2 linked regions of the Homo sapiens genome follow. The protein of the gene in region 1 purifies or fractionates together with the protein of each later gene. This does not show direct contact. Each region holds a gene or a part of one and is shown on either strand. Other genes may lie near its edges.

What was found.
Region 2: the proteins of MYO1D (region 1) and TBC1D9B purify together in Homo sapiens (affinity purification with mass spectrometry; 3 studies listed by BioGRID and IntAct, with this or other methods). This does not show direct contact.

The regions. Positions count from the first base shown.
Region 1 is NC_000017.11:32,757,147-32,773,337, forward strand, and holds part of MYO1D (unconventional myosin-Id), read right to left. Parts: intron 15,697-16,191; coding exon 15,643-15,696; intron 14,075-15,642; coding exon 13,979-14,074; intron 10,607-13,978; coding exon 10,490-10,606; intron 7,936-10,489; coding exon 7,732-7,935; intron 3,482-7,731; coding exon 3,336-3,481; intron 3,259-3,335; coding exon 3,144-3,258; intron 2,981-3,143; coding exon of another isoform or gene 2,966-2,980; exon of another isoform or gene 2,666-2,965; intron 1-2,665. UniProt on the Homo sapiens protein: Unconventional myosin that functions as actin-based motor protein with ATPase activity. Plays a role in endosomal protein trafficking, and especially in the transfer of cargo proteins from early to recycling endosomes.
Region 2 is NC_000005.10:179,886,436-179,902,626, forward strand, and holds part of TBC1D9B (TBC1 domain family member 9B), read right to left. Parts: intron 12,873-16,191; coding exon 12,754-12,872; intron 8,180-12,753; coding exon 7,951-8,179; intron 7,033-7,950; coding exon 6,774-7,032; intron 5,152-6,773; coding exon 4,944-5,151; intron 1,878-4,943; coding exon 1,668-1,877; intron 1-1,667. UniProt on the Homo sapiens protein: May act as a GTPase-activating protein for Rab family protein(s).

The sequences.
Region 1 (16,191 bases):
GCCAGTTATTTGTACATGGCTTTTAGCTCCATTTCTAGTCTTGCATGTTCTCTTCTGTATCTTATGGACTGAAACCTGTAAACTGGGTAGTTTTTACTTTGTTTTTTATACTTTTCTGATCTGTCTAAACTAAAGTTTCTCAAATAGGGGAATAGGGGGAATTTTGCTCACCAGGGGACATTTGGCAATATCAGGAGACATTTCTAGTCAAAATGGGGTAGGGGTGCTACTGTCATTTGGTGGGTAGAGGCCAGGGGTGCTGCTAAACATCCTACAATGCATAGAACAGCCTCCACAACAAAGAACTATCTGGCACAAAATCTCAGTAGTACTGAGGTGAAGCAGTGTAGGTCTAAATATTTACTTTCATTATGGGCATTTATTACATTTCTAATTAGGGAGAAAAGTTATTTCCATCTTTGGAAAAAAAATCCTAAAAATACTCAAAAAGCAGGAGCTCTATATTAATAGTTGACATCTTAGACTTCGGGACTGTGAAATTAAAGACGAAGTCTTTTGTCCCAGGGACTAAAGAATTACCTTCCCTAAAATCCCAATTATATTATTAAAAGCTATTGGTCTCTGCTAGTAACTTTCAGTTTGTAAGTTTAATACTGCTTCAAACATTGCTTAAACCAGTAGTTTTCAAACTAAGTTCTTCCAGCAACTTGGCATTCCCGTAAGGTTTCCTAAGGGATACCAGGAGCCAGAAGACTTGTGATGGGGTAGCTTAGGGACATGGGGCTCTGGCCTTTCATACCCACTCCAGATAAAACAGCTTTGTGCTTGAGTATCAAGTTCTCAATAGTTAAAATGATTTGCAAACTACAGCATCGAAAGCTTTTAAAAGTGAATGTACCAGATAACCAGACATTATGAACCTCCTGGTGGAAGTTCACACACAGTCTATGAAATGGGCTGTGGAAAAAAACTGACTCTGAATCCAGTCAAGACTCTAGATCTAACAACCAATATACAGGACATACAAGAAACAGAGAAACATATTAAATGGCACCTGAGGAATGCAATTAGCAAAATCCAGACTGTGGGGAACTCCATAACAAATGACTCATTCTCTTCAACACAAGATTGCAAAGAGAGATCATTCAAGGAAAAAAAGAAACATGGAGAAAATCTATAGATATGCAAGAGACCTATCAATCAATCATAATGTAAGAAACTTATTTGGATCCAAATTTAACCTGCAAAACAACAACCAGAAGACAATTAAGGAAATATGAAACATGTATACTGACTGGATATTTTATGATATTAAGGAATTTTTGTTAATGTTTTAGGTATGATAATGGCATTGTGATTATGGTTTTTGTAAAACTCTCTTAGAGAAATACATGGAAATATTTACTGAATAGATACCCAATTGAATAGATGAAATAATGTGATATCTGAAATTTGCTTCAAAATAATCTGGGAGTAGGTGGGTATAGTACAGATGGCATAAGACTGGCAATCAACTGGTACGTGTTAAAGCCAGGTGATGGGTATATAGGGTTTACTGTACTATAGTCTGTCTTCTTAATGTGTGTTTAAAATTTTCCATAATAAAAAATCTTTTAAAAAGAATCACTATGTTTAGAAGTTTGGGGTTTTACCCAGAATAGAGATTCTAATTGTGGGGGGATCTGCCATGTAGTAAGTAACTGTTACCTTGGAGTTAGCCTTCTGCTCCCTCTAGGACAAATAGTTCTTGGTTTATTTAGCGAAAATTTTTTGCATTTTGGGATTCTTAATTCTTTTTGAGATGTTTGGAACAGTCCACTGCATTACTTACCCTGTTGTCAATTATGTCTGTGAAATTTGATATTCTGATTGTGAAAGGATATTTTTGACTAGTACCTTGGAATCACATTTGAATAACAAGTTTTATGATTAAATTTGGTATTAAAAATCCAAGCTTCAGTTATACCGTGTATTATATTATACAACAGTTTCATTCTTAGAAAGCTTCATATACACTTAATTGAACTGAATTAAATTTTAATTGTATTAGGAGAGTTCATTATTTAAGTCAAACTATAGATAATTCTTATATAAAATAGCCCTTTGGTTTATATGCAGATAGGTAAAATTTATGCCAATATACCTGAGCAACTGTTTTATGGTATTCTAACGTTTAACACATGATGGAAGGCAGATACAATTTTGAGGCGGGAAAGCTATTTGTTATATCACTGTCTCTTTATTTCAGAATGAGAGGAAATAGAAAATAGGTAGGAAGGAAGATAAAAGTCATTTAAATATAGTATTTCAAATATTTTTTTGCTGCTATTATATTGGATAACAAAAAACAAATACTGGCTTCATTTCTATTCTCTGGCAAGAGGATGAACAATCATATAAACTCAAACTACAGAAACTTAAAAGTTTTTGTATTTTTCAAGTTTATTCTCAAAATTGCTTAAAAATACAAACTTACAAGAAAAATTACTATGTCTCATTTCTATCATAAACAGAAGGTCTTATCACAGGAAATTTAAAAACCAAACAAGTCATGCCTTTTAGCTTTGATCTCTGTGGTTTGCACTGTGCACCCATTATACTTTCCAGCTATATCTTACCAGATTAGTTTGCCTCTGACAAATACAAAAGTTCCCAAAGATTGATTAGAGTAGAGGTGATAATTGAAGTGTAATACACAAGAAAATGCAAAGTAAAACAAGTATTTTAATGTGTAGGTTTCAGAGAATATAAACAACATTAACTGAAGACAATAAAATACCATATAGTCTACAAAGTAGAAGAGGAGAAAAAGGAGGAAAAAGGGAAGAAGAAACTAGATTCTGAAGCAAAGTTCAGCCAATTTAAGGTATAACTTAATAAAGTATGCTAAACCTAACAGACAGATATAAACCAGTAAGTCCACGTGGTAGCAGCCATAAAGTGAAAACAGGTTTACTGGTTCTAACTCAGGATGTTCTGGGCATCAACAAGGCAGTCTATCAAATTATAGCAATCCCACCTAAAAATGATGAAATTAATTGTATTTACATATCCCAAAAAGGAAAGCTAAGGTTCAGATGTTTCAAATACCCCCAAAAGATCAAGAAATACCTAAAATAAAATTTGACATTATCAATAATATGAGAAACACATGAAGGCATTTTCCATAAGAGTCCACTCACATGTTTCCAGGGGATCCCTTCCCGCTGGTATTCCTCTTGTTCTTGCTTCAGAACCAGCTGAATAAATAGCTGCTGCAGTTTCTCATTGCAGTAATTGATACAGAATTGTTCAAAACTACAAGAAAAGGAATAAATTAAGTTTCAACAAATAGAAAACAGGCAACAAGGTTTTAAGTATCTTTTCCAGTTTACCTGTTGTTGTCAAAGATTTCAAAGCCATAGATATCCAAGACACCAATAACAGTGTTTTTCCCATGGATTGTGGTGTCATAGTTCTTGACCTCAATAATATCATTGATGCGAGTAACGATCCAACAAAAAAGGCGCTCATATATTGCCTGCAAGGAAAATAGCATCATAAATGCTTGCCAATTTGGGAATGAGTCCTCTGTTTGGATTTGTGATCAGTTTTAAATTCCTGTCCACCTTCTCACTGTTTAGCATAGCCATTACTGGCCTCAGCAGAACAAATGAAAATGTAGACTGTCCATTTAAAAAAACCCAAACTACCTGATGTATGCAAAACTAAAGTAAATAGCTTGTATTTTTAAAAGATTATTACCGGTCATTATACCAATTCCAACGACACTCTCCAGGCATGTTTCCCTGCCCGGCTATATCAATAGTTTGCCTGATCCCTTGAATAAGCCAGTTCATTGCTTTATTATTAATTTCATCAACTATAAAGAGTTGAGAGCTAGTGAGTTAATATCTATGATCCACTAAAGCTATATGAATTCTAAAAAATATAAATATTGATTTCTAATGCTAAATGAAGATCTGAGCCAAAGATCAAGGGTTGAAATTCCCTGAGAATCGAACACACATCCAATGCACAAGAACACACACACTAAGCCACACATGGACAAAGGTGCCACACGCTAACACACATTCACATCCCGATACACATGTGCTCTGCAACGTCACATCGTTAGAAAACCTTCCTTAACGTCTCCTGCCAGCTACCCACTCTCTTCACCCATATCCATTACCTCCCCTTTACTCTTCAATCCACTCCAGTCTCCACTTACATCCTATTACTCCATTGAAATGGCTCATCAAAGACTCCCAGCACCTCTACATAGATACTTCTCGTACCTCATATGGACATCTTGCTCTGTCGCTCAGCATCACTCAACCTAGGTTTTCACTGCCTTCTTGGAACACTCTTCTCTCTGGATTTCGGATAATAGCCTTTCTGAATTTTACTCTTTGTTCACTGGATGTTCCTTTTTGGTGACCTTTGGTAGAGTCTCCTCTTCTACCTGACTTGTAAAAGTTGGAGTTCTTCCTGGTCCTCTTCTCTTCACTCTCTAGCACCTTCTAAATCATCTCACCCAGGATTAAATAATACAAATATAATATGACTCCCAAAAGTATTATCCAAATCCAGACTCAGAGAACAGTCTCTGAGCTCCTGACTCAAGAGCTTGACTGTCTACCTGACACTGACTCTTCAATGGCTCACAGCCATCTCAAACTCAAAGGACTCTTGATCTTTCCTCTTCCAACAACTGTTCCTATCCTACTTTTAGCCACAAATAAATAGCACCACTTAGAAATTCACTGATTTATTCAACAAATATTTGCTGAATACTTATTATATATAGTTTGTTAGAGATACAGGTCTAGGCAAACACAAACATAGTCTCAATGTCCAAGAAACTTAGGGAATAGAGTGAAGGAAAAAATTATTCTCTCTGTCTCTCTCACTTGCCCCCCACCTCGCAGATAAACATCCACACTAAAGGAGAGGTACATGGGGTCTTAGGGAAATTTAATCTATGCAGTGCTCAGGAAGGTTAGGGAAGGCCTCTCTGGGAAAGTGATACTTGAGACCAGAAGGATGAGTAAGAGGTAGCCAAGCAAGAGAGGAGAGAAGAGCAGTCCAAGCAGAGGGAACAGATGTGCACAGGCCCTGTGACTGGAAGGAGAAAGGGATCAGGATAATCTGTGAGGACTGAGAGAAGACTAATGTGCTGGGCTGAAGAAAGGGGGGCTGGGTATAGTATAAAATGAGGTGGGAGAGGTGGGCTGGAGCCAGACCATGTTAAAGTATTATTCTTGCTTCTCTCATTCTCCACATAATAGGTCCTATGGATTTTATTTTCTCAACACAGTCCATTTCAAATCATCCTCCTCTCCCCATTTGTACTTTCACTTTTCTGATTCAAGCTGCCCTCATCTCTTTCCTGGATTAACAAAATATCCCCTTAATTGACCTCTTTGCTTCCATTCTTACTCTAGCCCCCATAACATTCTCCATACTAAGGCCAGAGTGATCATTTTAAAAATGCAAACTTGCCAGGTGCAGTGGCTCATGCCTGTAATCCCAACACTCTGGGAAGCTGAGGTGGGCAGATCACCTGAGGTCAGGAGTTTGAGACCAGCCTGGCCAACATGATGAGACCCCATCTCTACTAAAAATACAAAAATTAGCCAGGCATGGTGGCGGGTGCCTGTAATCCTAGCTACTCAGGAGGCTGAGGCAGGAGAATTGCTTGAACCCGGGAGGTGGAGGTTGCAGTGAGCTGAGATCATACCATTGCACTCCAGCCTGGGTGACAGAGAGACACCGTCTCAAAAAAAAAAGAAAAAAAAAAAAAGACAAAAAAACGGCCGGGTGCGGTGGCTCACACCTAATCCCAGCACTTTGGGAGGCCGAGGAGGGTGGATCACAAGGTCAGGAGATGGAGACCATCCTGGCTAACATGGTGAAACCCTGTCTCTACTAAAAATATAAAAAATTAGCTGGGCGTGGTGGCGGTCGCCTGTAGTTCCAGCTACTTGGGAGGCTGAGGCAGGAGAATGGCATGAACCCGGAAGGCAGAGCTTGCAGTGAGCTGAGATTGTGCCACTGCACTCCAGCTTGGGCAACAAAGCGAGACTCCATCTCAAAAAAAAAAAAAGGCAAACTTGATGTCATTGCCCCTCCTTAAAGTCCTCCCTATTGCTCTCCATTGCACTTAGGAAAAATTCAAATTCCCCCAAAACTAAAAACCAAGCCTAAGACTTACAAGAGTAAAAAATGAAATAGACAGTAAACTAATCAACCAGCAAAACAACAACAACGAAAGTTAGACGTGAGAAAATACAACGCTTGCCACACAGATAACAAAGGGTTAAAGTTTATGATATGCTAAGAACACTTAGAAATTGACAATAAAAAGATAACAGCTCCAAAGAAAAATGCACAAAAGATATACCCAGGCAATTCTTAGAATATGTTAAAATACTCTACAAAAATATGATAAGATGCTCAAATATACTAGTAATGAAATAAAAGTAACAATAAAATATTACCATGCAGCCATAAAATCAGTAAATTTAAAGTTTAAAATAAATATATGGCAGGTGCGGTGGCTCACGCCTGTAATCCCAGCACTTTGGGAGGCCAAGGCAGGTAGATCGCTTGAGGTCAGGAGTCCGAGACCAGCCTGGTCAACATGGTGAAACCTTGTCTCTACTAAAAATACAAAAATTAGCTGGGCGTGGTGGCACACTCCTGTAATCCCAGCTACTTGGGAGGCTGAGACAGGAGAATCACTTGAACCCGGGAGGTGGAGGTTGCAGTGAGCCAAGATTGTGCCACTGCACTCCAGCCTGGATGGCAGAGCAAGACTCCGTCTCAAAAAATAAAAATAAAATAAGTATACCCTTTGACCTGGCAAGCTCACTCCTGGGAATCCATCCAGCTGAAACAAAAGCACTAGTATATAAGCATAGATGTATAAAGACGTGCAGCATTGTTTGCAGTTGCAAAAAAGGGAAGTAAAGTGGGTGACTTAAGAGTAAGGTGGTTAAATAAATTGTGGTACTATCACTGCAGGCTTAGTACACAGCCCTGGAGGACATTATGCTAAGTGAAATAAGCCAGGCACAAAAAGACAAATATTGTGTGATCTCACCTATATGCAATCTGAAAAAGTCAAACTCATAGAAGCAGAGAATAGAATGGTGATTACCAGAGGCTAGAGGAGCGGGGTGGATGGAGAAAGTGTGAGACGTTAGTCAAAGGGTAAAGTTTCAGTTAGACAGGAAGAATAATTTGTGGTGATCCACTGCAAAGCGTGGTGACTGTTAATAATAATACTAATAATATTGTTTCAAATTGCTAAGAGTGGATTTTAAATGTTCTCACCACAAATAAATGGTAAGTAGGTGAGGTAAGAGGTATGCTAATTAGTCTGATCTGATCATTCCATAATGTGTACATGTCCTGAAATATCCCACTGTACCCATAAACATATACAATTATTGTCAATTAAAAATAAATAAAACTTAAAAAAAATGGATCAGAGCTCAGTCAGTTGACTCTGGCGAAGCATTATTGAGTGAGAGAAGCAGCACGTGAAGCCCTCATGAGCGCCACCCCCAGTCAGCTTCCACTCTTCTCAGAACCTTTTTTGGCAGTGATGCTTACTTACATCTGGGAGTTTTACCGAGGCTTGTATGGCCAGAAAGTATCATTATGGTTTCTAAAAGCCTTAACCCTCTTTCAAGAATGTCTGAATACATGCTCACAGGATTTCACTCAATTTGCAACTGCGATCAACACCAGGTGACATAGGGTCAGTTACACTCTCACCTTGGCAAAGGCGTCTCTGCCGTAGCTGGCCTCTTGTTCTGTGTGCTGCTTGTCAATGATGTCACGGCCTGTGGCCACAGTCCGGTAAAGAAGGGCTTTCTCAACCATATCTGTCTTAGTAGAGAGCAATTCTGCTATGATAGATACTACTTTGCCATTCTCAATAAGAGGCGTGTCACCATCTACTACAAATTTTAAATTTCCCTGTATCAAAAGTGAAAAAAATAACACATTATGAAACATTATGTCAAGGATATATTTGCCAATATAAAATACAATTCAGGTGACCTTGTTTGTACCTATTTTCCTAAATACATTATACATCTCAACATATAAAAACAGTGTTTCATCTACTTTTTCCCTTTCTCCGGACACTCATCTATCTTTTTGCTTTCAGTGTATGTTTTTGATAGATAAAAGTTTTACATTTTTATGTAATCGAATCTATGAATCTTTTGCCTTAGGGTCTCTCTTTCTTTGGTGTCATACTTAGACCATTCCTACTCCAAAGGGTTTATGAGCATTTGATGCTTTCCTCTAATGCTTTTATAGTTTTTGTTTTCCTTAAACTTTTTATTTTATTTATTTATTTATTTTTGAGACAGAGTCTCGCTCTGTCGCCCAGGCTGGAGTGCAAGTGGTGCGATCTTGGCTCACTGCAAGCTCTGCCTCCTGGGTTCACGCCATTCTCCTGCCTCAGCCTCCTGAAGAGCTGGGACTACAGGTGCCTGACACCACGCCCAGCTAATTTTTTGTATTTTTAGTAGAGACAGGGTTTCACCATGTTAGCTAGGATGGTCTCGACCTCCTGACCTCATGATCCACCCACCTCGGCCTCCCAAAGTGCTGGGATTACAGGCGTGAGCCACCGCGCCTGGCCTTTTTCCTTAAACTTTTTAATCCATCCACAATTGATTTTGGTACATGGTATCAAGTAAGAATCTAACTTTATTTTTCACATGATTAGTTGCTCTAACGGGACTTATTGAACAGTCTAGCTTTTTCTGATTTGAAATGTCACCTTTTTTTTGAGACAGGGTCTGTCACCCAGGCTGGAATGCAGTGGTGCACCATGGCTCACTGCAGCCTCAACGTCCCAGGCTTAAGCGATCCTTCCACCCCCAGCCCCTCTAAATAGCTGGGACTACAGATGCGTGCCACCATGCCTGGCTAATTTTTGTATTTTTTGTATAGATGGGGTTTTGCCATGTTGCCCAGGCTGGTCTTGGAACTCCTGGGTTCAAGCAATCTGTCCACCTCAAACTTTCCAAAGTGCTGGGATTACAGGTGTGAGCAACCCCGCCCAGCTGAAATGTCACCTTTTTAATATGTTAAATCTCCTCAAGTGTTTGAGTCTATTTATATTCCACTCATTCAATAAGCAATACATACTTATAACCATCTACCAAATGTCCAGCACATTAACCAATCAGTTGATTAATCTGTTGATCTGGTGCTGAACTTGTGCAAAGTTATAAAGTACTCTAGCTTTTACTATCATTTTAAGTTTGGTAGAACTAGTCATGTTCCCTCTCCTCCCTTACCCTACCCTATACGACACTTCTTTAATATACTTTATTTGATCTTTTTCCAGGTAAATTCTAGAATCAACAGGTCAAGTTAAAAACAAAATAAAGGCCAGGCACAGTGGCTCACGCCTGTAATCCCAGAACTTTGGGAGGCTGAGATGGGCAGATCACGAGGTCAGGAGATCGAGACTGTCCTGGCTATGGTGAAACCCCGTCTCTACTAAAAATAAAAAAAATTAGCCAGGCGTGGTGGCAGGCGCCTGTAGTCCCAGCTACTCAGGAGGCTGAGGCAGGAGAATGGTATGAACTCGGGAGGTGGAGCTTGCAGTGAGCCTAGATTGCACCACTGCACTCCAGCCTGGGTGACAGAGCGAGATTCCATCTCAAAAAGAAAACAAAACAACAAAAAATAAAATTCTTGTTTGGATTCTGAAAAGGACTGCTGCACTGTATTTAAAAACTGATTCAAACAGATGAGACAATTTATAATACTAAAGTCTTCCTAGTCAGGAACATTTATTGTTTATATTGCTATATAATATTTTTCATAAAGATCCTGCACATTTCTGATTCATTTAGAGTTAAATCTTGCTATATTAAGTGAAAAGTAATTTTTATTCCAGATTTGAATCCATGTTGTCATTCTTATTGTAAGATTATATGTTCAGTGTATTTTAAGTATCTCTAATTATATAAATGTTAATGAAAGAAATCTAACACACAGTTCTTCACTTCTAAGTTTGGTGTGGTATAGTGGGAAACAAGTGGCCCAAAAGTGGTCTATGGTGTTGGCTCTGGGATGAGCTGGCTGTGCCTTTGAGGTAGTCATGCCACCCATCAGGGCTATTTCCCAATCTGTAAAATGAGATGATTAAAAATCCAGTTCCGATAACCTATGATTCTATGTTTCAAATGCCACTAGAAATTTATACCACTAGTAGTCACATCACTGCTGAATTCCTTTATCCTTAAAATTAACCAGTTCAAAGTTTGACAATACCAGTAAGACAATCAACTGAAGTAGTAGTCTCCAACCCTATAGTAGCTTGGAAAATCCCTCATAATATTATAAAATGATGGCAAGAACCACAGACATAGTAATTTCTTCAAAATACGTACAAAATTTTCTCTGAATACTTTTTAAATCTACAGGGAAAAAACAAAATCTTCTGAGAAAGCATCCTGTTCTCAGCAGAAGACAATACATTCTGAGAGGTGTCCCTACTCACCAAGTGCAGAATAGCAGCCAAAATCTTATACACTGTTTGGATCTCCTCAGGTTTGAAGCCAATGACTTTCATGGCATCAGCAACAACTCTGAATTCGGCAGCATCATTGATAGAAGACTGGGGATGAAAATGAAAAACTGAAGTTACAGATATTTCCTATGAGCATTAAAATTCAACAATTATAAAACTAAGTTATACCAAGGTTTTGCCTTCATAGTAAATCACTTGAGGGGATGGTGAGTCTCCAGAGAAAATAAAAATGATTTCACGAGTTGCAACATTATTCAGCACGTACAAAGCCCACTTGTGCGTGAAAGCCATCACCTAAAATAAGCACTGTGCCGTTTTCTGGAACCTTCAGTGAGGGAGCAAGTCCTGAGCTGGCTCAGACAAGCTGATCCCCCACTCCATGATCAGTGAAGGCAACAGCATGGATGTGAGATCACAAATGCAAGTGCTGAATGTGGGAGCCTCCAAGATACATGCTTGGCTACTGTTGTTTGTGGCTCTTTGTTCCACAATTGTCTTATTTAGGCTGGCAACAACACTTCACTCTCGTATAATCAGGCGGTTTATTTTCCAGGTGAGGCAAGGCGGGCCCTCAAAAGCAAAACAGCCAGCCTCAGTCATTTAGTAAGCTATTAAATAGTCTGGGACTATAACTTCATTCTTTCACTCACTTGATACGCATTTCACAAGTCAGCTCTACTAACTGGTACAGGCAGCTCAAAGATGAATCGCCTGCCCTTTTAGAGCTGTGGCCATCACATTGGAAATACAAGTGCGTAAACAGAAATTCGCAATAAAGCAATAGTAACTGCTTATATTAGTTTTACCACAGCAGCAGCCGCAGAGGCTTGACCAATTCTTTCCTCAGTAAGTTTCTCCTCTTGTTTGGATACAGAGACCTGGCCTGATGCTCACTTGTTGAGGAAGGGCCCTGGAAGGGGACCTCTCTGCCTGGTGAGTACAAGTTCCTCTAGTGTCCAGGAGACAACCAGGCCAGCCCCTCCTCCTCCTAGGTTTTTGTTTTTACCTTGGACAAGATACTTAACCTCATTGAACCTCAACTTCCTCACAAATAAAATGGGCATAATAACATATATCTTACAGGGTGGTTGTCAGAATTGAATGAAAATTTATATAAAGCACCTCTCTAGCACCAGCATACAAAAAAAAACCACTCAGCAGTATCAGATATTACTATTATTATAAACTGCAACCATGTTGAAGTTGGAAAGTAACTGGATAAAATCTAAATGTCCTACTGTGGGGAACTGTTGGCTGCTTACCTAACAGCCATCCTCTACCCTCATTTCTTTCTTGCCAATCGAACCCTGATTTGTTTACTCCTCTCTAAGTGTGCATGTCCTTTGTGACTGGCATCTACCTAGCCTCAAGAGGTAAATCTTCACTGGTCTAAACTCATCAGAGTGATCTTATTTCCCTTACTAAATGACTGGTTAGCCACAGGCATGGGATGCCATTCTGATCAATACAACATGAGGGAAAGTGTTTATGGGGGATGAGTGGAGGAGGGTTCTTGGGGAGGTTTCCCTAGCTTATAAAGGACATATGCCATGAACATCTCCTTTGCAGGTGACTCCTGGAAATTCTGATGACATTTTGGGACTAAAAGGAAAACCAGCCTAAGAGGACAGAGCTGTCCATGAGTGTGGCAGAGTTGTAAGTTGGGGAAACAACCAAAAAAACACCTGGGTCCCTGACAACATTGTTAAGGCAATGAACTAACTAATTCTGGAATTGTCCTATCTCAGAGTTTCTTGTTATGCTAGATAATTAAGTTTCTTATTGTTTTTGGAGACTTTTAATTGGGTCTTCTCCTACTTGCAACCCAAAATATCTTAACTGTATATGACTCCTGCATTTTAGAACTGGTTAAGATACACACAGTGCAATACTTAATAGTTATAAAAATTATTATATTAATTTATATTTGTTTGCATGGAAAGATTATAATAAAAACAGGTTTATTTAATTAGGATTTATTGTATGATTCCATTTATAAATATAGATGCAAACCATTATCAATAATCATTTCTGTATGGTAAGATTTAGTGTATTTTTGTTTCCTTTTGGTTCATAGTTTAGGTTTTGACTATGATCATTTATTAGTTCTTTGTTTTCTTAGGAAGCAAAAAAAAAAAGGTGGGGAAAGCAGACATGGAAATTTTTGATAAAAAGGGAATCTAAGCTAAATTTAACCTAGAAAAAAGGCTATTAATTTAATACTTGCTTTCTGTGGGGACTCTACACGACTTGGTCAAAAGTAACTTAGTCGATAAGACAATTTGAAAACAAACATTCCCAGTCACTGGCTTTCCAGGTGTTGATTTCACAATTCTTTAAGTGCCTCTGGCTAGTTCTCAGAGAGGTGGAGTGTTGCCCTCTACTGTTTTTTGTTTTTAATTCATTTTCAGCCAAACATCCTGCTCGCTCTCAGATGACCATAAAAGTAAAGTTGTTGTAACCTAAATGTCAAATAATGGAAAATTAATTGCAAAAACCAAAATATCATTAATTTCTATGCACAGCAATAAAAATACAGCTAAACCAATAATGCAGGTATAATTAGCTTATTTTGATTAATAGAATTTTTTAAAGAAATAGCTCCCATATCTTAGATCTTTTTCCTTTACAGTTTCTTTTATTTCTCCCCCAAATATGAAAGCAGTAAGTTTTTGATGTAGAATTTTTTTAAATAAGGAAAAACAGAACACAAATATCCATAATCTCACCCATCTAGAATAAATAATTAATACTGTGATCTATATCCTACCATATCTTATTATATGCATTTATATACCTTCCCTCCTACGAAATAGGATAATAGTGTAACTATTATCAACAAACTATTATTATAATTAGTTGTAAAATTACTAGATGAACTAGAAATAAAATGAACTAGAAATAAAAGAGCAAAAATACGCCTGCATGTAAGTGTATGCAAGTGCTTGCATGCAAGAAAAGAGAAAAAATGGAAAAACTTGAAAGCTGAATAGGAATGCCTCAAAGGTCACAAAATTATTTCTAGGGTACATCAAAATCAACATTTGAACAAACAGTGAGTGGAGAATCAAAGTGCATTTTAATTTTGTCTTACTAACTTGCCTTTGGCCAAATCATATGGAATCTTCTTAGGAGGTAGGCTTCCTAGTCCTATCAATATTTTTATAGTGTGAAAATAAACGGAATAGGGATAGGATTAAAAATTAAAATAAAACATTGAATGTAGGAAAAAACTTCTTTCCTGTCAGATGGTGATAAAATATCATAATTGATTTTAAGCAAAGTTGTTGATTCAAAAATGTGCTGAATCTCTGTCCTTGAGAATTTAAAAAATAGAACAGGATAAAAGAGATGTTTATTTGCCTAAAGATAGCAGGCTTGACCAGATAATTATTGAATGTCTCTTCTAATCCTTTGACTGATTTTCTATTGGAGCAATCTCAAAGAGGAAATTCTCACCTTTAATTGAGCTCCCACATGAATATAGTTGTAGGATGAAAGGGATTTCTGGAGATGTAGAGAGCGTAGCATTTGTTCTGAACCTCCTTGGAGTAGCTGAAAAATATTTAATTAGAAATAAATTGGCCAGACATACATTGAACCAAACATGAACTTAGTGGTAATCTAGCTTTTATTCATTTTCTGGGCTTAATTCACTTATGTCTTCCTGTTTCTAGCTTTGAAGTTTTGCTTGTTTGTTTTTTTAAACATTCAAGGTAAATGGCTTCAATGTCATCAGTTACAGAGAATGTTATGCAGTCATAAAGAAAATTACTCTGAAAATGTCTCATCTCATTTACAATATAACTGGCATAAAAGTTTCTTGCTTTGAATGCCGTCATTTGTAAAACAGGATCCTATGCTCTGTGGTGGTTGCTTGCTTAGCAGCCTCACTATAGACAGGATATAGTTCTGTCTCAGAATTTAGAAAAAGTCAATATTGCTACGGAAGTAAGAAACATCAGCAGACAGTCATATGCTGAATCACACTGGAAACAAACAGCTTTTCCTCATCAATCTGTACCTCTCAGGAAAAGAGGACAGCTGGGGAACCATGATTGTAGTATTGGATAAAGATAAATTTTAATACTTTCACCCAAGTGGGAAGAACACTGGGAAAAAGTTACAGGTTATTGAAATAAACAGAACTCTTTTATATTTGGTAGAAAAATAGCTTATTTAAAACATGGCAAATTGCCAACAGAACCATAAACACAATATTGACAGTGCTTTTATATAGAGCATGTTTTTGGAAGGTATTAGGTTTAAATTCTCTAAATTAAACTGTATGCTTTTGTTTACTTAAAAAGTCTAATTATCAGATTTTAAAAATTGATTTTTAAACTTAATATACCAGAACTTATATATACAAATGAGTAGTGTCTATTAAAGCAGTTACCTAGAAGAAACTGAATTCGACTGAATTGCATCCAATTGTATTGTCACCGTTCAGTTACTTTCTGTTAACCTTGATTTACATTAATTTGGGCTTTAAAAACTTACAATAATATATCATACTTGTTTTCTAAGTGTAAAGACTTGCCAACAGGAAGGCTATTTAAAAGATTTTGCTTTAAAATCTAAAAGCACTCTTGAAAATAAATACTCAAATTTTTTTCTAAACTTGATGGATTAAAAAGGCAATCCTCCCTAGAAGTTATAAATCCAGATTGTTTTTTTAAAAGTAATCATATTGCTTTTAGTGTGTATGAGTGAAACAAACTGAATTTGTATTCTGATCTCTAGAACTCCCAAATATGGAAACAACAGCTTCAATTCAAAATAAAACAAAAATTAATTTAACATTTAGAATGTACCATTTCAAAAGCTTTCACAGTCATTAAAGTGTTATCTGTACTGCAAGAAAATATGGGGGATGCTCACCCAAGGCAGTCATCTGGTTGGCTAAGCTCCTGCCAGCTGGGTGGAACAGTCATGTTCATCCAATCTCTTAAGCAGGTAGGGCAGGGCATGTGGTGCGTGCGTGCGTGCGTGCATGCGTGACATGTTACGGGGCCAATGGAGATGAGTGATGCATAGGACAGGGGAAAGCCCAAGACACAAATACTCATTTCCTGCACAACTGGGCAAATGATCAATTATCTGTATAATGGATTACTAACCTGATAGAAAGAATGAAAGCTTCTTTCTCCTGGCTGTTGCACAATCACTCGAGACTAAGAAAAAACACATTAAAATGGTTAACCCGAAAATGTGCCCCTAAAATAAAACAGGAGCCACTTTCTTAGGGAACTGTCAGGCCTCTGAGCCCAAGCCTGCACGTATACATCCAGATGGCCTGAAGCAACTGAAGAATCACATAAGAAGTGAAAATGGCAGATTCTTGCCTTAACTAATGACATTTGGTGCCGTGACTTGGATCGGGGGAGCTCCCTTGGGAGATCAATCCCCTGTCCTCCTGCTCTTTGCTCTGTGAGAAAGACTGACTTACGACCTCAAGTCCTCAGACCAACCAGCCCAAGGAACATCTCACCAATTTTAAATCAGGTAAGCGGCCTCTTTTTACTCTCTTCTCCAACCTCTCTTACTATCCCTCAACCTCTTTCTCCTTTCAATTTCGGCGCCACCCTTCAATCTCCCCCTTCCCTTAATTTCAGTTCCTTTCCTTTTCTGGTAGAGACAGAGGAGACGTGTTTTATCTGTGAACACAA
Region 2 (16,191 bases), on another chromosome or scaffold:
AGGAGGCTCGACCACCCTGTTCACTGCCCCTGCCACTCAATCCAACTTCACTCTTTCTTGAAATCCCAGATGAAGCCCAACCTTCTCCACACCTTTCTTCATGTCTGCAATCCACATTGATTCCGCCCACCCCTTCCCATGCGCTCACTGACGTAGTAATTTATTTAGCATCTATTACTGGGGCAGACAATGTAAAGGTCTGCCTGGGCCAGACCACACACGGCTCTAGAGCATGGAGGACACGCACAGCCCCAGCTCCCACGCCCGCTGCCCAATGGGATGGGGCCTTTAGGGCTGGGCACTGACTTTTCTAGAGAAGCTGGATCTGTGAATTTGCATATGGACTCTTCTAATGGCCAAATGTTTTTGCAAATTCAGACTCAACGACAGCAGCAGCACATCCATCTTGTCACACCAGAAAGCAAGGAATCAAAGACGACCAGTGTCGTGCCCAGGGACTCTCAGGGCTAGACCAGATGAGCCCCTCTGGCCACAGACAGAATAAGCATAGTGATTCCAGTGGAAAGACACACATCAAGTTGCTTAAATCCATACGTTCATAATTACAATAAAAAGTAAACCAAAAAACTCACTGGTCACATGTGGAAGACACTAGAAAACCAACTCATCATTATTTTGACAACTGGTGAGTAAGAGGAAAGAGTAAAACATGTATTCCACCTTTCCTCTATGAACTGTGCCTGGGGTCAGCTTCCCTCTTTGGGAGAATTTCAGCTCCCAGACGAAAGGAGGAATGGAATGAGCATGCCGCTGGCCACTGGCCGCTGGATCCAGGCATATTCTCAATGACTGACAGTAGCATAGAGAGGTGGCTGGTTGCCAGACATCTCTTGTTGGGAATAAACAGCACCTCAAGCCTGCCCACAGGCGGACCTGCCAGAACCAAAATCAGCTGAGCCTGAATGTGATCACGGCTCTCGGTCTCACCGCTCAACCAACTTAAACAAGAGACACAGGAGCTTGCTAAACGCCTGCAGCGGATGCAATCAGCAAAACCAGACGATGAGAGACTCTATGGCACAAGTGACCGATTCCTTCAAAAAAATATTGTGGAAGAATAAACGAGAGCTAGGTGGAGCAGAAGCCCGTAGATTAAACAGATTTAAGAGACCTATCAACCAAGAGTGACATGTGTGACTTTCGTCTGCCTCAGTTCAAATAATCAAACCGTGAAAAGTACACTTGCACACGGGGAAGTGTGAATACAATATTTGGTGATATTAAGGAATTCTTGTTAAGTTTGCTGGTACAATAGTGATACTGCAGTTCTACCGTCAAGAACTTCAGCCTGAACGCCTGGCAGGGAAGGTCATGGGAACAAAGCCGAAGTGTACAGGCCTCCACAGTGTGGCTTTGCTCTGAGTGCAGCAGCAATGCAGAAAGGACAGCCAGAGAAGGTTCCTCATGGGCAATGGGCCCAGCAGGAGTGAGGAGTACCGGGTGTGTGGCTGGGGGTGCAGAGAGGCTGTGATGTTGCTGGGCAGTGTGGGTCTGGGCTAGGGGTCTCTTGCCAGCTCTGACACATCCACCCCTAGGCGGAGGCCCACAGCCGGAACCATGGGGTCAGGCTCCAGCGGGGAGGCTGATGGATGCCCTGGCTCTTCCTGGGCCCAACTCGACCCTGCTGCTCCCAAGGGGCTTCTCACCTCTGTGCTAGGGTCCACAACACTGGCTTTCCTGCTCCCGATACTGCCTGGCTGCTTGGATGGTGTTTTCTGGAGGAAGTCAGAGATCCTCTGCACCAAGAAATCACGGTCTTTCAGGTTGGCAAACAGGAATGTCATTTTGCTTTTGGTGCTGATGGACAGGGGGCTGGGCAGCACGCTGGAGCTGTCAGCTTTTTCGACAATGGTCACCTGAGAAGGTGAAAGAACTCTTTTGGGTGTCTGCATCTCAGGCCCTGCAGCTGGGCATGCTTTGTGAATGGCAGACTGTCATGCAGCTGTCCTCTCCTGGGCACAATGCAGTGAGTGGCCCAACTGTCCTCACATTCTGACTCTGCCACCCGCTGCACCTAACCCCGAGCAAGTTGCCTGTGCCTCTAAGGGCCCGTTTTTCCTGTCGATGGCGGGGAGCACACCGGCTGTGCAGGGTGGTTCTGAGGATGATGTAGTGTTCAGCCCAGCTGCTGGCCTTCACTGGCTCTCAGAAGGCTGTCCGAAAGCAGGGCAAGCAGTCCCTTGCTTGCAGGACTGTTCCCTGCACTTGTTCCCAGGGAACACTTTTTGACAGCAGGGGTCCTGGAGCTTGGCTCTGAACCCCTCTGAGGTGTAGAGGGCACAGGACAAGCTTTCAGTGGGCACCTCTGCAGAGCCCAAGGCCTGGCAGGGAGACGGACGAGGGATGCACCAGCTGAGCACAGTCAGCAGGGGTGAGTGCTGGGAAGAGGGAAGGCTGGGTGGTCCCAGGGGAGGCGGCCACTGAGCTGAGACCTGGTCCAGCCAGGTGAGTGCTGGGGAAGAGATGGGTGGGGGCACAGCAGTCACCCTGCAGAGGGGAGTAGGACTGCCTGAGGGAGGAAGAGAAGGCCAGAGAAGCCAGGACAGTGTGAGCTGGGCAGTGGTGGAGGTGAGTGTGCACTTTTTTTTTTTTTGAGACGGAGTCTCGCTGTCGCCCAGGCTGGAGTGCAGTGGTGCGATCTCAGCTCACTGCAAGCTCTGCCTCCCGGGTTCACGCCATTCTCCTGCCTCAGCCTCCCAAGTAGCTGGGACCACAGGTGCCCACCACCACGCCCGGCTAATTTTTTGTATTTTTAGTAGAGACGGGTTTCACCATGTTAGCCAGGATGGTCTCGATCTCCTGACCTCGTGACCCACCCGCCTCAGCCTCCCAAAGTGCTGGGATTACAGGCGTGAGCCACCGCGCCCAGTCTGAGTGTGCACTTTTTATGTCTGTGTGTGAACATATCCATGGGGTGTGCCTGGGCGCAGGTCTGAGAGGGGGAGAGGCGCACAGAAGGCCTCACAGGTCACAGGAGGCAGGTGGGAGAGGCGCACAGAAGGTCTCACAGGTCATAGGAGGCAGGTGGGAGAAGACTCTAGAGGACTCTAAGCAGGGTGCCAACATGCTCCCACTGACATTTCGAATTTTGCTGGTTGCTGTGGGAGGATACGCCATAAAGGGGCTAAGTGTGTTAGGCCGGGTGTGGCGGCTCAGGCCTGTAATCCCAGCACTTTGGACGGCTGAGGGAGGATCACTTGAATCCTGAAGTTTGAGACCAGCCTGGGCAACATGATGAATCCCTGTCTCTGTTAAAAATTTAAAAAAAACAGCTAGGTGTGGTGGCAAGCATCTGCTGTCCCAGCTACTCGGGAAGTTGAGGTGGGAGAATCACTTAAGTCCGGGAGATGGAGGCTGTAGTGAGCCATGATCACACCACTGCACTCCTGCCCAGGCAAGAGTGAGACCCTGTCTCAAAAAAAAAAAAAAAAAAAAAAAAGGCGGGGGTTGGGGTTCAGTGTGGTTAGGGAGTGGCTAAAGCAGATGATGGTGTCTTAGGTGGTGTCCGTGGAGAGGAAGGGCTGAGCTCTGCGGGGTGAGCTGGCAAGACATGCTGTAGGGAGGAGGGAGAGGTCGGAATCTAGGCCGATACGTGGCTTTTACCTGGGCAAAGGGTGGAAGAGGGGTCACTTCCCGAGGGAAGCATGGAAGCGGGTGGTTGGGAGTGAAATTCAAGAGTCCACTACACCCACAGCAGAGTGAGCTGCGTGCGCAAAAGCCTGCAGGCTGGAACGTGGAGGAGCAGGTGTGTTGAGGGGTCAGCGCTGGCTGGGCAGGCGGCCCCCACCCTGACCAGCTGCAGAGTTCCATCACCAGAGCACACTCAGTCCTCCAGTGTGAGCTAGTCCTGCTCCCCGAGCTCCGCCAGGGCTCTCTACCATCTGAGATGTCAAGGGCCCGGCAGGAGAAATCCAAACGGAGCCTCAGGTGTCAGGAAGACCCCTAGGCCTGGGGGACAGGTCAGTACAGTGCCCCGGACAGATCCACAGGGCCCTGGTGCTAACAGAATGTGGGGTTCGGGTCACACCTGAGCCTCTTAACCTGGAGCTTTTGGAGCTGTGGCTCTTCTGAGTTCCTTCCCTCTGACTTCCCTTGGGGAAACTGAGGCAGCAACTCTCCCACACCTATTCTCAGCTACATCTGCAACTTGAGGGATTTGTGCAAATGGCAGGGAGGTCTTTAAGTTAAGAATCTCACTTGATTCTTCTTATAATTAAACAGTCAGAGCCCTGCTTGGCCACAAGGAAAAGGAGGCCTTGGGACCTGTCCTGACTCAGTCTCATGCCTTCTATTTGGGCAAGGGCCCTTGTCCTTGCTGTCCACACCCCTTCGGTGCAGTGCAGGACAGATGGCCTTGCTCCCACCAGGGTCACTGTGGAAGTCCAAGAAACCCAAGAAGGAGCAAGTGAGAGCCAATGCAGCCTCACAGGGGAGAGCCGACGCCGCCCCACAGGGGAGAGCCGACCTCTGATGGCCTGCTGGAGCCGAGCCACGCCAAGGTGGTATGTCCAGAGAGGACTGGTGAGGTGGCCTCTGAGAGTGACATATGGGACCGGTGCAGGAACACGGTCCTCTAAGCGCAGCCACGGAGCAGCACTTTGCCCTGCAGGGCCCAGAAGGCAGGCCTGATGGAAACTCACGCGTGGGAGACCCTGTCTCCACTAGGCAAGTGACCTGAGAGGGCAAGCAGTGTGCCCCCACCATGTTACCTGCCTCCCCAACAGGGCAGGTGCCTGTGGAGGGGCTCACTTGTCCTACACCCTCCACCTGTCCCATCACTGAGTGACATGTGACTGCCTGGGCTAGGGCATCCTCCCAGGTACCCCCCAGTGAGACAGGGCAGAGCAGGACAGGCTGGTCCCTGAGCCCACTGACACCTCGGGGCTGGAAAGGCCTTGGCCTCTCAACTAGGGGATGCTGACCTCCCTCAGGGGTATGATGAGGTGGCAAGCGTCCTCCTCCTTGCTGGCGAAGCAGATGTAGTTGTTGGAGATGAACATCTGGCCAGGGATGTGCAGCTTGTTGAACGGCGTCCACAGGGTGCAGCTTGTGTGGCCGTCTAGCCGCTCATCCCTGGGCAGCCGGAACGTGGCTCGGTAGCACTCATTCTTGGCTCGGGCGTCCAGGTCTCTGGGGAAACAAGGTAGGAGGACAGGAGGAAAGGGGACAAGGTCAGGACCAGCACACTCTCAAGGAAGCCTTGGGGCCTCCCCAGGCCTGTTTCCACATCAGATTCAGGATCCCTGGGGTGGTCCCTTGAGCAAGTCATGCTCAGGGACCTCAGAGTTCAATAAAAGATGCATGCTGAGTGAGCAGGCAGAAGGTGAGACAGTCACATAACCAGCGGAGAAGTGGCCAGCAAGCAATGTGTCCTGAGACTGCTTTGAAAAGGACACACCTAGATGCTGGCCTGGGCAATGTGCAACCCATCCCTCGGTACTGATGGGCAAGCAGAGCCCAGAGCACCTGCCCTGGATCCCACTCAGATGGAGGGCCCCGGGCAGCTCTTCCACCCTGGGCAGGCCTAACCCCAGGTTTCACCTTGAAACCTAGGTGAGGAGCTCCCCACAGGGAGGTGTGGAGCTTAAACTAAAGCATGCGGCTGCTAACAGAAATGCACACCTGTGTATCTGATGGCTGTGACAGTGGCCTGGCCCAGGCCCTCACCCCTTTGGTGGCTCTGTCCACATAAACTCTCCCAGCCCCAAAGGGAGCCTCCTGCCTGCCCTGGGCCGCAGTGGCCTGACCAGGGCCTGACTGCATTCTCACCGGCAGTGCCAGGAGCAGTCATGTTCCATCTCTGCTCGTGTTCTTTCCAAAAGGTCCAACAAGCCAACCTGTCACTTGCATCCCAAGGACAACATGCTTGCACAATTTTCTGGTCCTGGAGGTGGACCCCAGAGTTTGGGCCTGGACCACAGTCTGTGGGTGCAATGCAGGAAATGGCCTGGCTGGAATGAGGTCGCTCAACACAAGGGTGTGAATCTGGCTGTGGTCAGGCTGGCTGTGGGACCCAGGGAACCTCAGAGATCTTGTCCAGCCTCTGGAGTTTCCCATAAGCTACAACCTAGGAACCCAAACGTTAAGTAGCCCGGGAGGGCTGGCTGCTATGATGTGTTCCTGCCTATCGGTCCCCTGGACAGGGCAGCAGGGAACTCAGACCCACACATGGCCCATCTCCTTGGCTGGCTTCAGACCCAGAGGTCTGCTTCCACGTCAAACTCAGGACCCCTGGGGGTCCCATGGCTGTGAGAGGCCTCTGGCCAAGGAGTCTCAGGGTATACAGGAGAGCTGTCAATCACGGTGGGACGGAGGCCGTGCACTTGAGCCCAGATTTACCAAAGCCTTTCTGGGGGTGTCAGAACACCCTGGCTGAGGTGGCTACATCCTGGCTCCACTGCTCACTAACCGAGGGACTTCAGGCAAGTTACTTAACCTCTCTGTGCCTCAGCTTCCTTGTCTGATACCTAGGGATGGTAAGAGCCCCTTCCCATCATAGGGCCAAGAGGAATAAAGTGTGAAGAGCTTCCTCCCCATTAGTGGTATCCTCAGGACATCACTGCTATCTCCTGCTGCCTCTCCACACGGGACTGCAATGATCTGTTTACCTGGCTTCCTTCCCAAGTGGGGAGCCCATGAGGGGTGAATGTGGACACCTTCTCCAGGTCTACACACTTGGACCAGGCAGGTCCCAGCCAAGGTCAGCGAACCTGGCTCACATGAGCCCACCCCAGCCCTGGAGGGCAACGCACCGCTTCAGGGCTGAGATGTTCCTGTGTGGCCGGATGGGCCTAGGCAGGGCCTTGTCCTCCAGGAAGCCCTCGCTGTCCAGCAGCTGCCGCATGGCCAGGTTGGCCAACTGCTCCATGAGCTTGAAGGTCTCGCCGATGTTGAGGAACATGGAGAAGAAGAGCTCCTGGTCGCGGGTGTCCACACGGATGCTCTCGGGGAAGAGCAGGGTGGCGTTCTTCTCCAGACGCGTTATGTCCACCCACTGCACCACGAGGCTCACTGTGCCCACAGAGATAGACACACCGCAAGTTAGGGCCTGGCAGGGCGAGGCTCCTGATGCCCATCTGTACCCCAGACCCATCCCAGGGAACTGCTCTCTGGGGGCAGCACTTCCTGTGTGCCCAGGCCTGTCTGGGCTGTGTCACGCCCTCCATGTGGAGGGACCAGGCCACTGAGGTGTCCACTGCCTTCCAGACCAACCACACACGGTGAGTGTCTCCCCCACCAGTGGCTGAAGGGGAAAGGAACGAACGTGCGGAGGTGAACCACCGAGACCCACCCAGCAGCTCCCCCAAGTGGGAGCGCACGGAGGTGTGAACAGTCACAGCACAGCGCGGCCAACACAGAACAGGACACAGCCCCTGCTGACGGGAGGTGACTGGCCACCTGGTCGTGACAGGTAAGCGGCAAGGGCAGGAGGGGGCACAGGGAGGCTGTGGGCTGAGGGAGGCAAGGAGGGAGGAGGGCTTGGTGGGCTTGGGGATGGCTAAGACCCTGGGGCTCTTTCTGGAGCTGCTGGGAAATCAGGCTCGCATCCTGTGGCCGGGATGTCTGTAGGGAGGAACCTGCAGCAGATGAGGGCTGTGGCACGCACCCAAGGCATTGCATGACATGGAATCACCAGGAATTTGGGACAGACGTGTGCCTGAATACGCCAGTTCAGCAGAAGAGGGCAGGGCAGGCACGCGGAGTCACCATGTAGAGAACCCTACTAGCGAGTGGGGGGCATGGTAAAAGTCGGCTGGGAGCAGGTGTACGCCTGGCCAAGGCCGGACAGTCCCATCTTGGGCCGCTAAGGTGGCATTTGGGTTTCAGGGAGACCCCTCTGGTGGCCATGTGGGGATGGAGTATCTGGGGGCCGAAGGCAGGGAGGGGCTGAGGGTGTGGGGGCTGGGGCACACTGAGGGGCGGGCTCACCTTCCTTCCCCAGCAGGAAGGAGTAGAAGCACAGGTGGTTGACCGTCAGGTACAGCCAGCCCTGCCGGGGCACGCGGCCCTTCCAGTAGCTGCAGGAGTAGTAATTCACCAGCTTCTCGCCCTCAGGCATCCCAAACTGCTTCCGCATCTTCAGCTCAGCCTCCTTGAACTTCCCGGGGTCCTCGTCTCCCTGGGGCTGCAGGTTCTTGTTCTCTTCTGCGATGATTCCCTGGAGGAAGGCAAGAGGACAAGGGCTTGCCCTGCACAGTCCCGGACAGGTCAAAGGGTGGAGCAGAGAGGCCCAGGGAACCCAGGACTCATGGACCTTGGTCTAAGGGCTACAGGCACAGCTGGGAACAGTCAGTGGCTCTTGCTGGCTTGCAGTCAAGGCACATGGATGAGAGACGCTGCCTGTGTGACTCTCTAGACAAAGTTCCTGCAACTCCCGTAACTACTGTCATCACCAGTTGTGAGCAGAGGCTTTTTAAAAAAATTAAGACAGGGTCTCACTCTGTCACCCAAGCTGGAGTGCAGTGGCTCAACCACGGCTCACTGTAGCCTCAACCCAACAGCTGAAGCCATCCTCCTGCCTCAGCCTCCCAAGTAGTTGGGACTATAGGTGTACTCCACCACACCTGGCTAATTTTGTACTTTTTGTAGAAATGGGGTTTTGCCATGTTGCCCAGGCTGGTCTCAAACTCCTGGGCTCAAGTGATCCGCCCGCCTCAGCCTCCCAAAGTGCTGGGATTACAGGTGTGAACCACTGTGTCTGGCCTGACACTTTTAAAATGAATATTTCAGTTATTTTCATGTAAAATTGTTGAAACATTATCCATAAACATGGTAAAAAATGCATACAGTAGAAATGTGTATTCAGTGAAAAGGGAATCTTTTCTCGCTCTCTGTAGTGACTTTCCTGGTTCCTTCCAGACATGCAAACACCAATGGATTCATAAGCAAATGTATGTTTTCCTCTTTCCCCCTTTATTTGCCCAAATGGGATCACCCTGCAGCTCTGTTCTGTAAAGCGCTTCTCTTATCACATCCTGGAGGACGTCCTGCACTTGGCCCCCTGTATGCCAGGGGGCTCCTGCCTCTTGGCCCTGCACACAAACCAGCGGCAGGACCTGCAGTTTCAGGGCCCGTCCATACTCCCTCATGCTGCTGGCATTGTTACAGGGCTCAGGGTGCCCAGAGACATCCCCCTGGGCCACAGAGCCAGCCCCAAGCCTCCTGGGGTAAAACAGGTCCTCAGCAGTGCCCTCAGCTCAAAATGTACACATTGATTTTCTAGAAAGACAATTACAAGATAAACTAGTCAGTCAAGGTCAGTGCTGGTGGCTGGGCCACCCCCGATCCCTCTGTCCATGGGCAGTGAGGACAGCCATGAGCCTAGGTGAGGACTGAAAGGTGGGATCTGTTCTGATTTCTTCTATTTCTGAGTAGCCAGGGAAGGAAACTACAATATGCCATCCCAAAATATGCCCTTTTGACATAAGAAGTATTTTGAGCTGAAGGCAATTAAGTAGCAGCAAACACAGGAAAAGCTCTTTCTGCCCTCCCTCCCCCTTTCTGCCTAAAAGCTGGATATACGTTCTCCTTTATTGGAGACAATTCTAGATTCCTATCAGCCCAGAGATGACACCGCACGCATCTGCAAACAAACCTTACTCCATCGGTTTCATCCCACGTATTTATCTTCTCACAGTTTCCTGCCCTTGGAAGCATAAGCTGTTTTCGTCTGTCCTGTTATTGTTCTTTAAGTGGCCTGTCCCTGTGTTAAGAGGCTGTGTAAACCCAATTCCAACTAAACTTTTGAGTCACCTATCCAAGTTTCTCCCATGAATATATGAGATACACACATTAGTAAACTTCTGTTTTTGTCTTGTTAATCTGCCTTTTGTAACAGAGCCCCAGCCAAGAACCTAAATGGGGAGAAGGAAAAGGGTTTTTCTTCTCTTATACCAGTGCTACCGCAGCTGCGATCTAAACATCTCTCTCCAAAGTGCTGGGATTACAGGTGTGAGCCACCGCGCCTAGCCAAACTGGTGTTCTTTTAAGCCACTAAGTTGATGGTAATTTGTTGCAGAAGCAACTGGAAATTAATAAATGTTATTCTAATAAAGTGCCCATTTTGTCTAAATTCTTTTTTTTTTAGACAGGGTCTCACTCTATTGCCCAGGCTGGAATGCTGTGGCGCAATCTTGGCTCACTGCAACCTCTGCCTCCCGGGTTCAAGCAATTCTTGTGCCTCAGCCTCCCAAATAGGTGGGATTACAGGTGCGCGACACCATGCCCAGCTAATTTTTTATATTTTTAGTAGAGACAAGGTTTTGCCATGTTGGCCAGGCTGGTCTTAAACTCCTGGCCTCAAGTGATCCACCTGCCTTAGCCTCCCAAAGTGCTAGGATTACGGGTGTGAGACACCACGCCCAGCCCCATTTTGTCTAAATTCTTAAAGGTACTGGTTTAAGGCTGTTTTGTCATCCTCTCTCTTTAGAGTTTTGCTTTTTTAAAGATGCTCCTCACAGCGTATTTTGAGACGGAGTCTCGCTCTGTTGCCCAGGCTGGAGGGCAGTGGCATGATCTCGGCTCACTGCAACCTCCGCCTCCCAGGTTCATGCCATTCTCCTGCCTCAGCCTCCCGAGTAGCTGGGACTACAGGCCCCCGCCACCATGCCCGGCTAATTTTTTTGTATTTTTAGTAGAGATGGGGTTTCACTGTGTTAGCCAGGATGGTCTCGATCTCCTGACCTCGTGATCCGCCCGCCTCGGCCTCCAAAAGTGCTGGGATTACAGGCATAAGCCACTGCGCCTGGCCCATCCTTCCTTCTTTTGTAAGACTGAAGGCTTTAAATTTCCTTCTGTGTATTGCTCTCACTGCATCCCACACATCCTGACATGCAGTAGTATTTCAATCATTTTCTTTTCTTTTTTTTTTTTTTGAGATGGAGTCTCGCTCTGTTGCCCAGGCTGGAGTGCAGTGGTGTGATCTCAGCTCACTGCAACCTCTGCCTCCTAAGTCCAAGTGATTCTCCTGCCTCAGTCTTCCATTCCGAGTAGCTGGGACTACAGGCCCATGCCACCACGCCCAGCTACTTTTTAAATATTTTTAGTAGAGACAGGGTTTTGCCATGTTGGCAAAGGATGGCTGGCCTTGATCTCCTGACCTCAAGTGATCCGCCCGTCTTGGCCTCCCAGAGTGCTGGGATTACAGGTGTGAGCCACCACACCTGGCCTCAATTCTAAATATTTTCTAATTTCCATTTCTTCCTTGGCCTATGAGTCATTTGGTTTGTTCTGCTGATGCGTTTGTTGGGCCTGGCATATAGGAGGCAGTGAATAATGTCACAACTACTATTATTATCATCGCCCAATTGCTCACCAGAGTAAAGGCTTGCTTCTGCTCTCTCCACCTGTTTTCCTGGAGATAGAGGTAACCAGGTCTCACCTTGAACCCCAAAGTGCACTGAGAAGAGCTGAGAAAGCTGGTAATGTCTGTCCAGGCTTAGGAAGTTCTGGTATCAGGAATTCACATGGGCCTGCCCAAAGCAACTTTGCACCACACGACTTTGACCTGGTAAGAGCCCTCCCATGAATCTAACTTAAGGCAATAACCTAACAGAAAGAAAAAGACATATACATTCAGGCCAGGTGCGGTGGCTGATGCCTGTAATCCCATAACTTTGGGAGGCCAAGGTGGGTGGATCACTTAAGGTCAGGAGTTTGAGACTAGCCTGGCCAACATGGCAAAACCCCATCTCTACTTTTTTTTTTTTTTTTTGAGACGAAGTCTCATTCTGTCGCCTGGGCTGGAGTGCAGTGGCATCATCTTGGCTCACTGCAAACTCTGCTTCCCGGGTTTATGCCATTCTCCTGCCTCAGCCTCCCGATTAGCTGGAACTACAGGTGCCCACCACCACGCCCGGCTAATTTTTTTTGTATTTTTAGTAGAGACAGGGTTTCACTGTGTTAGCCAGGATGGTCGCGATCTCCTAACCTCGTGATCTGCCTGTCTTGGCCTCCCAAAGTGCTGGGATTACAGGCCTGAGCCACCGCACCTGGCCTTTTTTTTTTAATTGAGATGGAGTCTCACTCTGTCACCTAGGCTGGTGTGCAGTGGCACGATCTCAGCTCACTGCAACCTCGGCCTCCTGGGTTCAAGCAATTCTCCTGTCTCAGCCTCTTGAGTAGCTGGGATTACAGGCGCGTGCCACCATGCCTGGCTAATTTTTGTATTTTTAGTAGAGATGGGGTTTTGCCACGTTGGCCAGGCTGCTCTTGAACTCCTGACCTCAGATGATCCACCCACCTCGGCCTCCCATAGTGCTGGGATTATAGGTGTGGGCCACCACACCTGGCCCTTTAAACTGTATATTCTGCATATATGAATACACTGTAGGGTAAACGCCAAGAATGGAATTTTTGGGTAAAGGGCATGTGTCTTTTAAAATAACGTTAGTTTTATTATAAAAAACAACTCAAAATATCCAATTGTTTCCAGCATCTCTTCTGGCAAACAGAACCGTCTATCTGCGTACGCCTTCCAAGGCACTTGGGTAGGAATGGAAGCCCCGCACTAGGCTTCAGCAGCCTCCAGTGCCCACCCAGGGTAAGAAGGGGTTTTCCTGGGTCACGAGTTCCTCTGCCCCTTTCAACTCCAAGAGAAGGAGCGCTGACACTTCAGTCTCCACCTTTGTAAAATGGGGACGCACCCTACATCGTGAAGATGAAATAGGATAATACACGAGAACACTGCTGGCCAGGGAAGGGTGAGAACAGAGAGTGGCGGGTAAACCTTACGTGTATCTTGCCCTTGACGAAGGTGGTGATATCTTCCTCACTGTCGAAGATGGACAGTGTCTGGAGCAAGTTATTTTCCAGCCATTCCCAGTGTTTTGTGATCTCTTTGCGGGAAGAACCTAGAAGAGGTTTGGTAAAGTAAAAGAAAAATCATGAATTCCCCAGGCCTTAAACGCACATTCAAAGAAGCGAGATGAAAGTGGGTGACCTCATTTGCTAAATCTAAGTGACCAGAATCTTCAAGCTGCTTTTCCCTCTTAAGCTGATGGATATGTGCATAACAAAGTAATAAATGGTCCTGGTAAAAAAACAAAAAATTAAACGTCCAGGCTGAATCACAGTCGTGTGGGAGAGAATGTTTCCACCTGTCCCTGAAGCCAACAGGGAGAGTCACTAAGTCTCCTATGTGTCCTAGAAATAGTCTGTGTGCCTGCAAGCTTGCTAACTTACACTTTTCCTCAAGTTGAAAGAACTTAATGTGGCTTTTGCTATGTAGGTGATTAATCAGACACAGTCATACTTTGTATAAATGAGTCCAGCTCTTTCCTGAGCATCTAGGTATCCACAGATAAGCAGCCGGAGCTTCCTACAAGACTCCAGGCCCCTGGCCAGCGAGGCTCCTGCTGGGCAGGCGAGTAGCTACTGTCCCTCTCTTCAGTTTCTCCTGGCCACCTTCTTACCTTGTGTCTGCCCCACCTAGGAGGGAGGGGGTCCCTGTCCTCCATAGGCCCAACGGAAATTAAAAAAAATGTAGAGAAAATCTGGGCGCCGTGTCTCATGCCTGTAATCCCAGCACTTTGGGAGGCTGAGGCAGGAGGGTCATTTGAGCCCAGGAGTTCGAGATCAGCCCGGGCAGCATGGCGAAACCAAAAATACAAAAAATTAGCTGGGCGTGGTGGCATGCACCTGTGGTCCCAGCCACTCAGGATGCTGAGGTGGGAGGATTGCTTGAGCCTGGGAGGCGGAGGCTACAGTGCAGCCTGAGTGACAAAGTGAGACCTCGTCTCAAAAAACAAAACAACACACAAAACAAAAACGTAGAGAAGGCAGCACGATGCCACTTTCAAAGGCTGGAAGAATTGTTTGCTCCCATTAAGGAATCGGGGAAGAAGCCCCGGGGGAAGAGCAAAGGGATGAGGGGAGATCTCTGCCTGGCCTGGCTCCCCTACCCCCAGCACCTGTTTCTGGGGTTTTGCCTGTACTGAATGAACACAAGGATGAGGAGTGAATGACACCCTGAATCATTCTCAGCTGTCCGGGGGTGGGACAGGAGGCCCACCCACCAGGCATGAAGACAGCCTCAGCCAAGACATGGCAGATTCTCGTTATTCAGGTGGTCAGATTCTGTAAGGTGGCCGCGAACACTGAGTTAGCGAATCCTGAACCAGTACCCTGGGGGAACACAGGGTTAGGTTCCTGGAGCCTCTAATCACACTCTTGTCGACTGACCGATACATAACTGTTTTACATGTTTCTGTTTAAAGATGCCTTATTTAATACGTATCCCTGATCGATTGGCATTGAGCTCACGGCCAGCAGCACTATCACTCACGCCTGAAAGAAGCTGCTCGCATGCACGGATCTCCTTCACAAGGCACAACTCAGCCTTCTTGCTCTTAGGAACAAGAGCACTACGGCACTATGCTCGGGAGGCCAGTGTGACTGTGAACCAGACGTCTCTGCTGGCACGCCTGCCCCGACCACCTTCCTTCCCTCCCTGACCAGGCTCTTCTGCCAGCTGGAGACAGCTCTGACCCTCCCTCCAGGCCAGGCTGGGCCTGTCACCTGCTCCAGCCCGTGGCACCCGCTCAAGGCTGTGTCACAGCCCGGCTGTTCTGCTTGGGACTGATTTGTTTGCTTTGTCAAATCTCCTCAAGCAGACCCTGACCTAAGAAGCAAGGCCACAGGATAGATCCTCCCGATTGGCCTGGGGGAGGATGCCCACGGGAAAACGATTCCACCCAGAATCACACAGCTTGCAGTGAGTCACAAAAGGCCCCCAGAATTACTCCTGGAAGCCCCTTAAGTCATCCATAATTCACTTTAAACTTTTTTTTTCATTTTTCTTTGCATTTCTATTACAGCCTCCTTTCCCTGATGCACAGAGGCCAAGGCCTAGTTGGTAGGTAGAGATTTCTTTTTCGGTTTCTTTGCCAGGAACCCACAGTTGAATTTGGAAGTCAAATTTACATGTGGTGCAACTCTACTGTATTATTTTCTGTTACACATAACATTCCTAGAAAACTAAAACAGAAGAAATCTCCTCCTCGCTGCCTGTGTGGATGTGTCAGCACTTTAATTAAAAATATTTATAGGCCGGGCACAGTGGCTCAGTCCTATAATCCCAGCACTCTGGGAGGCTGAGGCAGGGGAATCGCTTGAGCCCAGGAGTTTGAGATCAGTCTGGGCAACATGGCTGTCTCTACAAAAAATAGAAAAAATGAGGCATGGTTGCGTGGGCCTGCAGTCCCAGCTAGTCAGGAGGCTGAGGTGGGAGGATCGCTTTAGCCAGAGAGCTGCAGTGAGCTGTGATTGCACCACGGCACTCCAGCCTGGGCAACAGAAAGAGAACGCCTCAAAAAAACATTTCTTTTTTTACATATGTGCATTAAAAATATTAGTTAAAAGTAACTCAATCTTCATTTCATACTAAGAAACTATTCCATCTCTATGCTAGGTGCTGGGAATAAAAATAATATAATAGCTAATTAGAGTATTAAATGCTGTTTCTGTTTTCAGAGTTTTCCATGGATTATCTTATTTCATTCTCAGAACACAGTGGAGACAGGTACCATTATTTTCATTTTACCAGATGAAGCTGAGGCACAGAGAGGTGAAATAAGTTACCCAAGGTCACACAGCTGGGAAGTGATCAAATCAGAATCCTAACCCTGGGTGCCTGGCTGCAGAGCCTGCCCTCACCCTCGGAAGCTCCCGGCCTCATGGGCTTCCACGTAAAAGCGTGTGCAGACACGTCATGTCCAGAGGAGTAAGGAGGAAGGATGGGTCTGTGGAGTCTGGGCAGTTCTCAGAGGAGCGGGAGGGAAGGTTAGCTGGCATGGCGGACACTAGGCACAGCAGCCAGGAGGGGTGTGGCTCCTCCAGGCCCTGCAGCTGTGTGGTCCGGCTGAAGGCCAGGCTGTGAGCTGGGGAGACAAGGCCAGAAATGGAGGCAGGCAGACCCCCAGGTGTCCTCGAACACCAGGCTCAAGGGTCAGGACTCACTAAGCAGGTGCTGGCAGGGCCATGTCTGGTCTTGGTGAGTTGCTTCTGGGGCCTAGCCTGGCTGGCAGGAAAGGGAGGCACAGCCAGGGCCAGTGCAGGGCTTTGGGCCTGGCAGGAGGGGAGAGGTCAAGTGTGTGGCACGGGGCTACGTACATGGGCTCCGCTGCGTGGCTGTGGCTGGGCCCCTCCCCAGCACCAGGCCTGCTGTGACTA